Homo sapiens: one gene and its partners. The protein of the gene in region 1 purifies or fractionates together with the protein of each later gene. This does not show direct contact. Each region holds a gene or a part of one and is shown in the gene's direction. Other genes may lie near its edges.

Region 1 (3,753 bases):
ATTACAAAATTATGAACACAAAATTAGGTATGACGATGGTTATTTAGAATGAGAAAATAAATTGTAAATTATAACAAATGAAGAGCTCTCTGGCATTTAGGAGAAATGCTCCCTGGTTGCAACTCCCCACCTGTTAGACTACAAATCCCAGCGACCCATGCAAGTGAACATAAATTTCATTAGCTTCACCGTAAAGTTGTCTGGCGGCGGGTCGGGGGTGGGTAGGAAGAAGTGTTATCTCCATTTTTAGGTTGAGCAAATCACTCAGTATTGCAGAGTGGGAATCTGAAAATTATGCAAATAGACTCTAGAGCCCTCGCCTTTACCCCCACCCTGCTTCTTGTCAATATCACTGAGTGTGCATGAGGGTCTCGTTAACGACGGCTGAGGGGGAGACGATGAAGTAAGAGGAAAGGCTGAACAAAGGGCAAGAGAAAGGCAGAAAGAAGCTCCTAAAGAAAGCTGGACGCAATTGGGCTCCGCAACCCTAATGGAGAAATGCGCCTTAGGAGGGAAGGGGAGAAGTTTAAGGGGAAACAGGTAAAATGAGGCAGAAGTTGAGCAAGTTAGTCAAACCCTAAATTCTTTTACTTATTTACAAAACAGCCTGGCGCGGTGGCTCTCGCCTGTAATTCCAGCACTTTAGGAGGCCGAGGCAGGAGAATCGCTTGAGGCCAGGAGTTCAAGACCCCCCTCTCTGCAAAAAACAATTTAAAAATTAGCCGGGTGTGGTGGTGCGCAGTTGCGGTCTCAGCTACTCGGGAGACTGAGGCGGGAGGATGGCTTGAGACCGGGAGGCGGAGACTGCAGTGAGCTCTGATCGCGCCACTGCACTCCAGCCTGGGTGACAGAGCCAGACCGTCTCTAAAAATAATAATAGCAATAACAAAATAAAAATAAATGTACTGCACCCAACTATGACCCAGGAGTGGCATGGGTTTCCGCAGCGCAGCGGCCGCGCCTGGGCGCCCCAAGCAACACAACCAGCGCTGTCAGGAGGCGAATAGGAGCCAGGACAGAGAGCTGGGGAGGCCACTGCTGTCAGGCGAGGGATAAGAAGGCCGTCCGCGGCGTCACTGACGGGGCTGAAGGAACACCAGGAGAAGAGTGGCAGACAGCTCCGGAGCCGCGCTGCCCGGGCGACGCCGGAAGATGGGCCTCCCAGCGGTCTTCCTTTCAGCCAATGGCCGCGAGATGCGCCGTCCGAGGGTGCCCCGCGCGGCACAGGGAGGGAACAAGCAGCCCATCGGGTGCAAGAAAGCACTATCTTTCTAGGTGACTATGCGAACTACCAGGGAAGTGTAGCTAGGGACAGGCTTCTCTGCCCGCGGTTAACCTAACTCAGTGCCACCACGCCTTTAACCTGAAGCCAGGGAGCACGGCTGCCCTCAGTAAAGATGGCTGACTGGCGCGGAGAAAAAGCCGGAAGCAGCTGGGCTTTGCAGGGAGCCGACTGAGCGCTGCGGGGGCGTGGCCTGGCGGTGGAGGGGCGTGGCCAGCCGCCGTAACCTGGGTTTGCGATCTTTGAGGCGCGCGCACCGCACCCGGTCCCGACTCTGTGGCTTCCTGGGGGCGGGTTCGCCGTCGGCCCCGCCCCCGCCCAGGTGTCTCCCTTTGGGAAGCTGCCCGCCGAGTCTCCGAGATTTGTCCCTGGTGGTCCCGCGGACCCCTCGTCCCTCCGCAGTCTCCGGCTGGCAGCGATGGAGGGCGCTGGGGAGAACGCCCCGGAGTCCAGCTCCTCTGCCCCTGGGTCCGAAGAGTCTGCCAGGGATCCACAGGTGCCGCCTCCGGAGGAAGAATCGGGGGACTGCGCCCGGTCCCTGGAGGCGGTCCCCAAGAAACTCTGTGGGTATTTAAGTAAGTTCGGCGGCAAAGGGCCCATCCGGGGCTGGAAATCCCGCTGGTTCTTCTACGACGAAAGGAAATGTCAGCTGTATTACTCGCGGACCGCTCAGGATGCCAATCCCTTGGACAGCATCGACCTCTCCAGTGCAGTGTTTGACTGTAAGGCGGACGCTGAGGAGGGGATCTTCGAAATCAAGACTCCCAGCCGGGTTATTACCCTGAAGGTAAATTCCTGCAACGACTTTCTCCTTTCCAGCGGCGTGAGGTCCCCTTTTCGCAGGGCAAGGCTGGGCGCGAGTGTGAGGTGGACACAGTAAATTTGGAGTGTCGGTGACGACAGTTCCAAGAACTTTGTGCTTTGCAAAGTGCATTCCCACCCATTTCCTCATTGGGTTCCCACAAGGCAGGGAAGACAGACCCATTTTACGGATCAAGAAACTGAGTCAGAGGGAGATGAAAGGACTGGCTCGAGGTCCATGCGTCTAGAGAGTAGGGTAGCTTGGAATCCCATAGTCTTTCTACCTCTCAGTGCTGAATCAAAACTTTTACTTTTGGGTGTGCCTGACAGTGCAGTTACCTTAACTTTCTTACCTGGGACCTAAGTAAGTCAAAATATGGTCTTTGCAATCCTCTCTCAAGGCCAGGATTCTGATTCCCGTTTCTTGATATTTTGGCCAAGGTCAGTGAATGCTGAGAAGAGACTGGCAGGGATTAGGAAAATAAACACTTAGGTTTCACTGATCAGCCTAGATTGTTCATCTAGGCATGCTTAAACCTGTTTTCCTATCAGCAGCAAGGGGTAGGTTTTATCATCATGTGTAACTGAGAAAGCCTAAAGCAGTAGAAAGGCCACATTCTTTGAAATCAGACGGGCTTGGATTCAAATTGTACATTTGCTACTTACTAGCTGTGTGACCCTGGACAAGTTACTTAACCTCTCAGAACCTAGGTGGTTTGTAAGCATTTGACACATCACAGGCATGTACAAATTGTTGAATTAATTGCATCACCTAGAATACAGCCTGGTACCTAGTGGAGTACTTAATAATTTTTTGTTGCATAAGCACACATGCACACACAAGGTGATGGAACCAAGGTCAGAGTGCTAATGTCAAGAGGAGGTGTCCCATAACTTAATTGGAAAGACAGATCTGGGCTAAGTGTTCTATGGGCATCAGAGAAGAATGTGCCAGGAGATAGCCTTCCCCACCCCATCCCCATCTGTCCACCCCTCCAACCCCAACTCCAGCTAAGTGGGTATCTGTGGATGCCCACGTGTTCAGTTCTCCTTTACTGACTGGACTTGGCGGGTGACCAGGCTGGGGGACTTGGTTAAAATAATGAAACTCAGGAATCCCTGGCCAGGGAAGGCATTTTCGAGGTCATGTGGTTCCCGGGTCTATGTGTCTCTTCCACAGGTTGACTGCTGTATGCAGGGTCTTCAACACATGGTCTTTATAATAGTATTCCATTGTTCCTGGCTCTGCGCTTGGCGGGGTGTGGAGCTAATGCACCCCCACCCCTGGTTCTCTGACAGCTTAAAGTCTGGTGGGAGAGACTGAGGGAGAACCTGCATGCACCCTGAAATGTTCTGTAGAGACATGTGATAAGTCTGTGCAAGAAGGTGTGGTGACAGGAGGAGTCAGTTCCACCAAGTGGAAGGGGCTAGCCAGAAAGGCATCTGGAGGAGGGACACACCCAAGGCTTGAAAGAAGAAATAGGTGGCAAGCAGACAAGAGGGAGAAAGGTATTCCAGGCCAAGAGAGCACCGTGAGCAAATTAGGAAACCATGATACAGCCCTGAGTGTCCAGGCAAATCACATGAGCCAGAAAAACAGAGGGGCCCAAAGGATGGAGTTGAAGAGCAGAGGCCCGAGGGTGGGGAATTGGCAAATTAGGCCAAGTAGC
Region 2 (3,653 bases), on another chromosome or scaffold:
ATCAGTCTCTCATTAATCAGTTTGATTACATGACATGGTAATTTTTTAATGTGAAAAGTTGTTACTAAATTGGTGGTTTGTCTTTCTAGATGTTATTTTAGAATCAGGGCAGTAAGGGTATATGAGGTTCTTACCTCATTTAATCCTCAAAACATCCCCATTTTACAGTTGAAAAGTTACTAAATTGATGGTTTGTCTTTCAATAGATGTTACTTTACAATCAGGGCCGCAAAGTCATATATCAGGCTAGTGCTAGGCACTCCACAGTGTTTATTTCATTTAATCCTCACGATATCCCCATTTTACAGGTGAGAAAAATTTAGTTTTAGGTTAAACACTGCTAGATTACTCACTAGTGGAACAAGAAGAAATTAAGCTTCAAATCCGGTGTGCTTTTCAAACTTCTGTTCATAAGTTAGAGAACACCTGTGGAAAGTCTTGTCACTTAAGACTGAAAACTTAATACAAATGATAGTGATAACTCATTTCGTGTGAATGTTTCTGATGGTTGGGTATGTCTTTTCCTACAGGAGAGTAAGTATAAGAATGAGCATTGAACTACAATCAGTTTCTAATCCAGTTCACAGAAAGGTTGGTATTTAGTCCTTTTTTGAAATATCATTTCGGTACATTGTAGACAATTAGTTTTGTTCTTTAAGAATGTGACATCTTTTATTGCATTTATTTTGCTTTTACATTTTAGGCTATTTTGCAACTGTTGGAAATCAAGGGTGGTGGAATCTACTGAGACAACAACTGAAGGATAATTATACTATATATTTCTTTTTTTTTTTTTTTTTTTTGAGATGGAGTCTTGCTCTGTCACCAGGCTGGAGTGCAGTGGCACGATCTCGGCTCACTCACCTCCCGGGTTCAAACAATTCTCCTGCCTCAGCCTCCCAAGTAGCTGGGACTACAGGCATGCACCACCACGCCCAGCTAATTTTTGTATTTTTAGTAGAGACGGGGTTTCACCATGTTGGCCAGGATGGTCTCGATCTCTTGACCTTGTGATCTGCCCACCTCGGCCTCCCAAAGTGCTGAGATTACAGGCTTGAACCACTGTGCCCGGCCTATACCATATATTTCTAAAACATACGTGAAAAATTGTGGGGTGGGGTGACATTCTCCTTAGATTTGCCCAGTGCACTTAGAAGTTGCATATTATATATATATAATAACATATATATAAAAATATATTTTATTGCTGTTGGTCATACACACACACACACACACACACACACACACACTGCTGCCTTGTAGAATTGGCATTTCATGGTATAAATGTAAAAACAATAAACCGAAGTACTGCAGGGAGATATTTGTGAATCTTTTACTTTACGTTTTGAAGAGAGGCATTTAGAGTATCAGTCTCATATAACCTTCAAAAGTGTGAGTCATTAACAGAACTAAGGATATAGAATAGAGGAGGGGTCCCCAACCCCCTGGCCACTTACTGGTACGGTCTGTGGCCTGTTAGGAGCCAGGCTGCACAGCAGGAGGTGAGTGGCAGGCAGGGAAGCGAGTGTAACCTCCTACGATCCACCTCCTGTCAGATCAGTGGTGGCATTAGAGTCTCATAGGAGTGCAAACCCTATTGTGAACTGTACATGCAAGGGATCTCAGCTGTATGCTCCTTATGAGAATCTAATGGCTGATCTGAGGTGGAAGTTTCATCCTGAAACCATCCTTCACTCCCTAATTCTTGGAAAAATGTCTTCTACAAAACTGGTTTCTAGTGCCAAAAAGGTTGGGGGCCACTGGAACAGAGAACTAAGAAATACGGCATCTGTGCCAAGGGCAGTGCCTCACACCTGTAATCCCAGCACTTTGGGAGGCTGAAGTAGGCAGATTGCTTGAGCCAGGAGTTTGAAACCAGTGTAGGCAACATGGTGAAATCCCATCTCTACAAAAAAATACACAAATTAGCTGAATGTGGTGGCACACTCCTGTAGTTCCATCTACTTGAGAGGCTGAGGTGGAAGGATCACTTGAGACTGGGAGGTTGAGGCTGCAGTGAGCTGTGAGGGTGCCACTGCAACCTAGACTGGGCGACAGAGCGAGACCCCATGTCAAAAAACACTGAAATATAGCATCTGTTTTCTGTGTGCCATAGCTTTCCCTGAACACATTCAAGGACCTAGTAGTATTAATAGTACCTTTGGTTTTTTAAGTAGCATCCTGGGTGAATTTCAGGAAGTACTTAAATAGAAGCTGCTTAAGAACAAGGCATTCTGAGGCAGAGCAGGTGCCTAAATTACTAATTTTCCAGAGTAGAGATGATATATTATACTTCTTACATGTTATTCCTTATGCCTGCTGTACCTCTTCATTTTCTAGCTTGGTGCATAAGTGGTTTAGATTTTTCTAGGATCTTAGCATTTCCTCAGTAGACATGAGTAGAGATTTTATTTCAAATGAATTCTTAACCTTAATGCCCAGTTCTTTATTAGTTTTACATCATCTTGTAACTAATGCTGTTTTTCTTTCACCAGTGTTCTCTGGTACATAATTTTGGTGTACTTTTTGTGAGCTCTAGCTGTTATGATGGTCTCCCACACTATGTACACGTAGCTACCTGGAAAGTGATCTTTATGAAAGGTACTTACTTCATTTGAGACTGAAAACAGTTGGGCTTCCATATCAGTGGCCACCTGGCCTAGGAGAGAATAGGCTCTTTGGAAGAAGCCTGGCAACGTGTTACCTGATACCCTGGTCTTCTGAGAGACAGAAGCTCTTTTTTCTAGTGTGGATTATTGTCAGTTCTGCTGATATATTTGCCACTTTTGAAATGCCATACCAGTTAACTTTAAGGAAACTAAAAATAAAATTGAATGTGGTATGTTCAGTGGTAAAGAAAATTTTCATCATGTTATGGTGTAGCAAGGACTGGGTCTAAATTTCCCCAAGCCTCTGATAGGAGGATATTCCTAAACTTTCAACTCCTAGCACTTGCTTAACTTTTACAGACCTCCATGTGGCTTTTAAAGAGCGGAATGTCTACCCCTATTTAAGATTCTAACTCTCTAAAGACTAATAAAAAACCAGCAGCACTAGAAAACAAAGCTGTCTGCAATATAACTATGATACACTGATGTTGTTGGATTTCTTTACTTCTGAGAAGAAATTACTCAAAAGGCCAGATCTAGTAAAAACATTTAAAAACAACAAACTTTCTTTTAGGACTTAGTTATTCGTCTGACTGATGACACGGATCCATTTTTTTTATATAACCTTGTTATATCTGAGGAAGATTTTCAAAGGTAACTAAATTTTTTTCTGATCTTATATTTAGTGAAAAAATAAGTTTCTAAGTTTTATTGGTACTGTTCTCTTTCAAACACATACCTACATATTAGATTTAGTTACTTTGGGAATATTGGGCTATTTGTACTATCTTTACTTAGGGTGTTTTGGAAAATAAATATTTTGTGGGTTATTAGAATTCTGCTTAAAACACCTGTGAAGTTTGAAGCTTTTGCTGAATTTATTGATTTTTTTTCCCATTGAATACGTTCTATAAAAATCAGAGTTCCTTAGCTTAGTTCTTGATTATAACAAGCGTTAGTAAATTTGAAAAAAGAATCCTTCAGGATGCTAATTATAATTAAAGATAGTAATTGGCCAGGCACGGTGGCTCACGCCTGTAATCC
Region 3 (3,653 bases), on another chromosome or scaffold:
ATACTTCCTATTTGTAGCACTTGTAATTATTGGCGTGTGTCTGTCCTCCCCCATGTAGATTCTGTGTAAATAATTGGTAAATAATTTCTGAAGGTTTATCAAGGTCTATGGATACCCTTGAGAAAAGATTAAAGAGTGAAATTAAAGAGATTACAATAAGCAGTAACCATTGAAGTAAAAAAGGAATGATAGCTACCTTTTATAAAGCAATTATTGTGTGCCAGGCAATGTGCTAAGTATTTGCTATGTAGTTTCCCATTTAATCCTTTGATCCAGGTGACAGTATTCCCATTTTACAGACAAAAAATGTGAGCTTCAGGGAGGTGAAGTAAGTGGCTTAAAGTTAGCATGGATTAAAAATGATAGAGCCAAGATCGAAACCCAGGTTTCCCTGTTATTTAGTGAGGGTAGGAACTCTAGCACCCTGCACCATGCCTAGGTTATCTCTTAAAAAAAAAGAAGGTAGAGTGCATACAGAAAATATATTCAAGGCTATTTTTAAAAATTAGCTTTAAATGCAAGTGTGGTTCAATTAAGATCTTCAGGCCAGGTGCAGTGGTTCATGACTGTAATCCCAGCACTTTGGGAGGCGGAGGCAGGCAGATGGCTTGAGATCAGGAGTTCTAGACCAGCCTGAGCAACATGGCAAAACCTGTCTTTACAAAAGATACAAAAACTAGCTGAGCGTCGTGGCATGTGCCTGTAGTCCCAGCTACTTGAGGGGCTGAGGCAGGAGGATCACTTGCGCCTAGAAGGTTGAGGCTGGAGTGAGCTGTGATGGCACCACTGCATTACAACCTGGGTGACAAAATGAGACCCTATCTCAAAAACAAAAAACAAAAAAAAGTTTTTAAGGTTATTGGTTAAAAAAAAATTTTTTTTAAGTTTGAGGACTTTCTTGATGAGCTAAAGGCCCCCATATCAGAGCATACTAATTTGGTGCTGAAGTTAGTATTTTTTATCTTCCAAATTTAGCTCCTGTGATACCATTTATAATTCTCTAACTTTGCACATCACCCTCTTGGTGGCTTTTCACACACCCACATGAAAACAATGGATGCCATTATAACGTAATACTTGGGTATCTCCTTCTTAGATACCAACTCAGAGGATTTCAGTGGCTTTCCGTATTTATAATATGCAATATTCAGGCAGCTTTATTTAACTGAAGAAAACTCATTGGCATTTTCAGTTAACCAGAATCATTTTAGAAAGCAGAGGAAAATTAGAAATATATCTTTTAAATTAGCACATTTTAGAGCATGTTCTGTTATTTGTATAGATTGAGCCTAACTGAGTACGCTGATGGCCAGTTCAGCTAAGGATAGAAACTGGAATTCACAAAGGTCCTTACCGAAAGAACATGGAACAAAAAATTCTGAGCACGTTGACAGAAATTAAGTTTGAAACATCATGGCCAGGAACCCAGTCATTTAAATAGATGAAGAGTCAAGCGAATAAAATAATCCAAAGCAGTTCAAGAATGCAGCCTGTGTGTTGTACTTCCTACAGATAGTACCTGAGATGGAGAGAATCTTCTGGCTTATTCAGTCAACAAAGATTTTTTATGCAACCACAGTATACCCTTGGCATTCACAATTTTAACGCTTTCCATTTTAACCATTACATTTGACCCCTGTGACATGGAATTATTTATAATTTTGCTGAGACACAAATTTGAATGTGACTTTAAGATTAATGTTAATCCTTTGGGAGGGGCCTGAGTGCCTCAGAATCCATGGCGCTCTGCAGAGGCCGGCTTGTTAAAAGTCTTAAAGGAAGGTCATTTAAATGCTTGTTATACTATACTTATTAAATTTGAAGGAGAAAATTACATGCTGTAGTTGTGTTTACAAATTTTAAAACTTGAGAAGGCCACGAAATACATTCTTCAGTGGTCTTTGCTCCTTTGTTCAAAATGCTGTTTCATTTCTACTGGCTCAAACTTTTAACTTGCCATTTCTCCTGGGAAAACAGATGGAGCAAAGAAATGAATTCATGGACTGCTCCCAGTGGAAGACAAGTAAAACACCGAGTGCAATTGTAGATTATGTAGAAGATTGCTTGAAAGGGGCAAATCCTGCCCCAAGGTCAGTTTAAGAAATCATTAGAAAGGGGCGTGGTTAATCCTCACCTTGGATCTGAGAGTGTTGGATTCTTCCTCCAGTTTACATGGTTGTAGAATCCTGTTGGCTTCCTAGGTTGTACATGAAAACAGGAAATCTCGGGCTATAAATTACAAGCCCTCAACATTTTATCGGTGCTTGATTCAACTATTGCAGTACAAATTGTTAAAATGTCAGCTTGACTTCACTGTCTTTTCTGTTTTTCTTTGCTGGTTAATAAGAGTGCCCTCCTGTGTCTTTAGGATGTAATGTCATTTCAAGCTTTTCAAAGGTCATATTTTATCATAACCTCAATAGGTTTTTTCCTTCATGATTTCCTCAAACTCTGAAAAGCTGCGTGTGACATAAGGCTAAGTTACATACCTTTCTCAGTAATGGTCTGTGATAAAGATGGATATTTTACTCTTAGGCATTTCAGAGTCCAAAATTATTATTCTGAAGATTAAATATTTTATACTTAACAAGGCAAAAAAATATATCGGGCCAAGCACAGTGGCTCACACCTGTAATCCTAGCACTTCAGGAAGCTGAGGAGGAGGATCACTTGAGCCCAGGTGTTCCAGACCAGCCTGGGCAACATAGTGAGACCCTGTCTGTACAAAAAAAACTAAAAATTAGCTAGGCCTGGTGTCTTGTGCCCGTAGTCCCAGCTACTCAGTAGGCTGAGGTGAGAGGTTTGCTTGAGCCCAGGGATTTGAGGTTACAGTGAGCTGATTGCACCTCTGCACTCTAGCCTGAGTGACAGAACAAGGCCCTGTCTCCAACCAAAAAAAAAAAAAAAAAAAAAAAAAAAAAAGATACACTGATGACAGACTTTTGGTAGTAGTAGTTGAATTGAAAAAAAAAATCTGGCTTACCTATGGTCAATCAGCAAAGCCAGAAGACTGTACTAATAGAAGTATTACAGCATTACTCTTGCTATAACCACGGTACCACAGTAGCATATTTGTTTTGTGACTGGTTTGCTCTGAGTACTCATATCCCTCTGGCATTTGCTCTGATGTTCAGCAATATTTAGTTAACAGTTCACAAGGGCCCAGGTTGCAGCATGGCCACCAAGTCATTCCACATGGAAAATACACTCCTGGTTTGCTGAACACCAGCAGAGGTCCAGGCATAAACCAACCCTCAGGTCTCCATCATTCATGTATTTACTCAACAAATCTTCTGAACACCTGCTCTGTACCAGGCATTGCTCAAGATACTAAGCATATTGCAGTGAACAAAACAGATTTATCCCCAGCCTATATGGAACGTGAAGCCTAGTGGGTTTACTGTCCAATTCAAGCAGTATTACATTGAATGTCCTGATTAGAGATACCCTTGGGCTCAGGCTCAAATATTTTTGTTACATGTAATGGTCAAAACTGTATTTAATTGTATCCAGTAATATGCTTTCTGAAAATTTTAACAGATAAGGCCAAATTGCTCACTAGTTTTCCATTGTACAGGTAGTATATGAGAATGCATTTTCCCCACCCTTGCCAATGATGCTGTTTCTTTACTTTTACTATTTGTCTTCTGAAT

What was found.
Region 2: the proteins of TBC1D2 (region 1) and SASS6 purify together in Homo sapiens (affinity purification with mass spectrometry; one large-scale study listed by BioGRID and IntAct). This does not show direct contact.
Region 3: the proteins of TBC1D2 (region 1) and INTS9 fractionate together in Homo sapiens (co-fractionation; one large-scale study listed by BioGRID). This does not show direct contact.

Annotation. Positions count from the first base shown.
Region 1 is NC_000009.12:98,253,489-98,257,241, reverse strand, and holds the start of TBC1D2 (TBC1 domain family member 2A), read left to right. Parts: upstream 1-1,592; 5' UTR 1,593-1,700; coding exon 1,701-2,069; intron 2,070-3,753. UniProt on the Homo sapiens protein: Acts as a GTPase-activating protein for RAB7A. Signal effector acting as a linker between RAC1 and RAB7A, leading to RAB7A inactivation and subsequent inhibition of cadherin degradation and reduced cell-cell adhesion.
Region 2 is NC_000001.11:100,122,820-100,126,472, reverse strand, and holds part of SASS6 (spindle assembly abnormal protein 6 homolog), read left to right. Parts: intron 1-530; coding exon 531-591; intron 592-2,495; exon of another isoform or gene 2,496-3,183; coding exon 3,184-3,263; intron 3,264-3,653.
Region 3 is NC_000008.11:28,883,438-28,887,090, reverse strand, and holds part of INTS9 (integrator complex subunit 9), read left to right. Parts: intron 1-3,653. UniProt on the Homo sapiens protein: Component of the integrator complex, a multiprotein complex that terminates RNA polymerase II (Pol II) transcription in the promoter-proximal region of genes.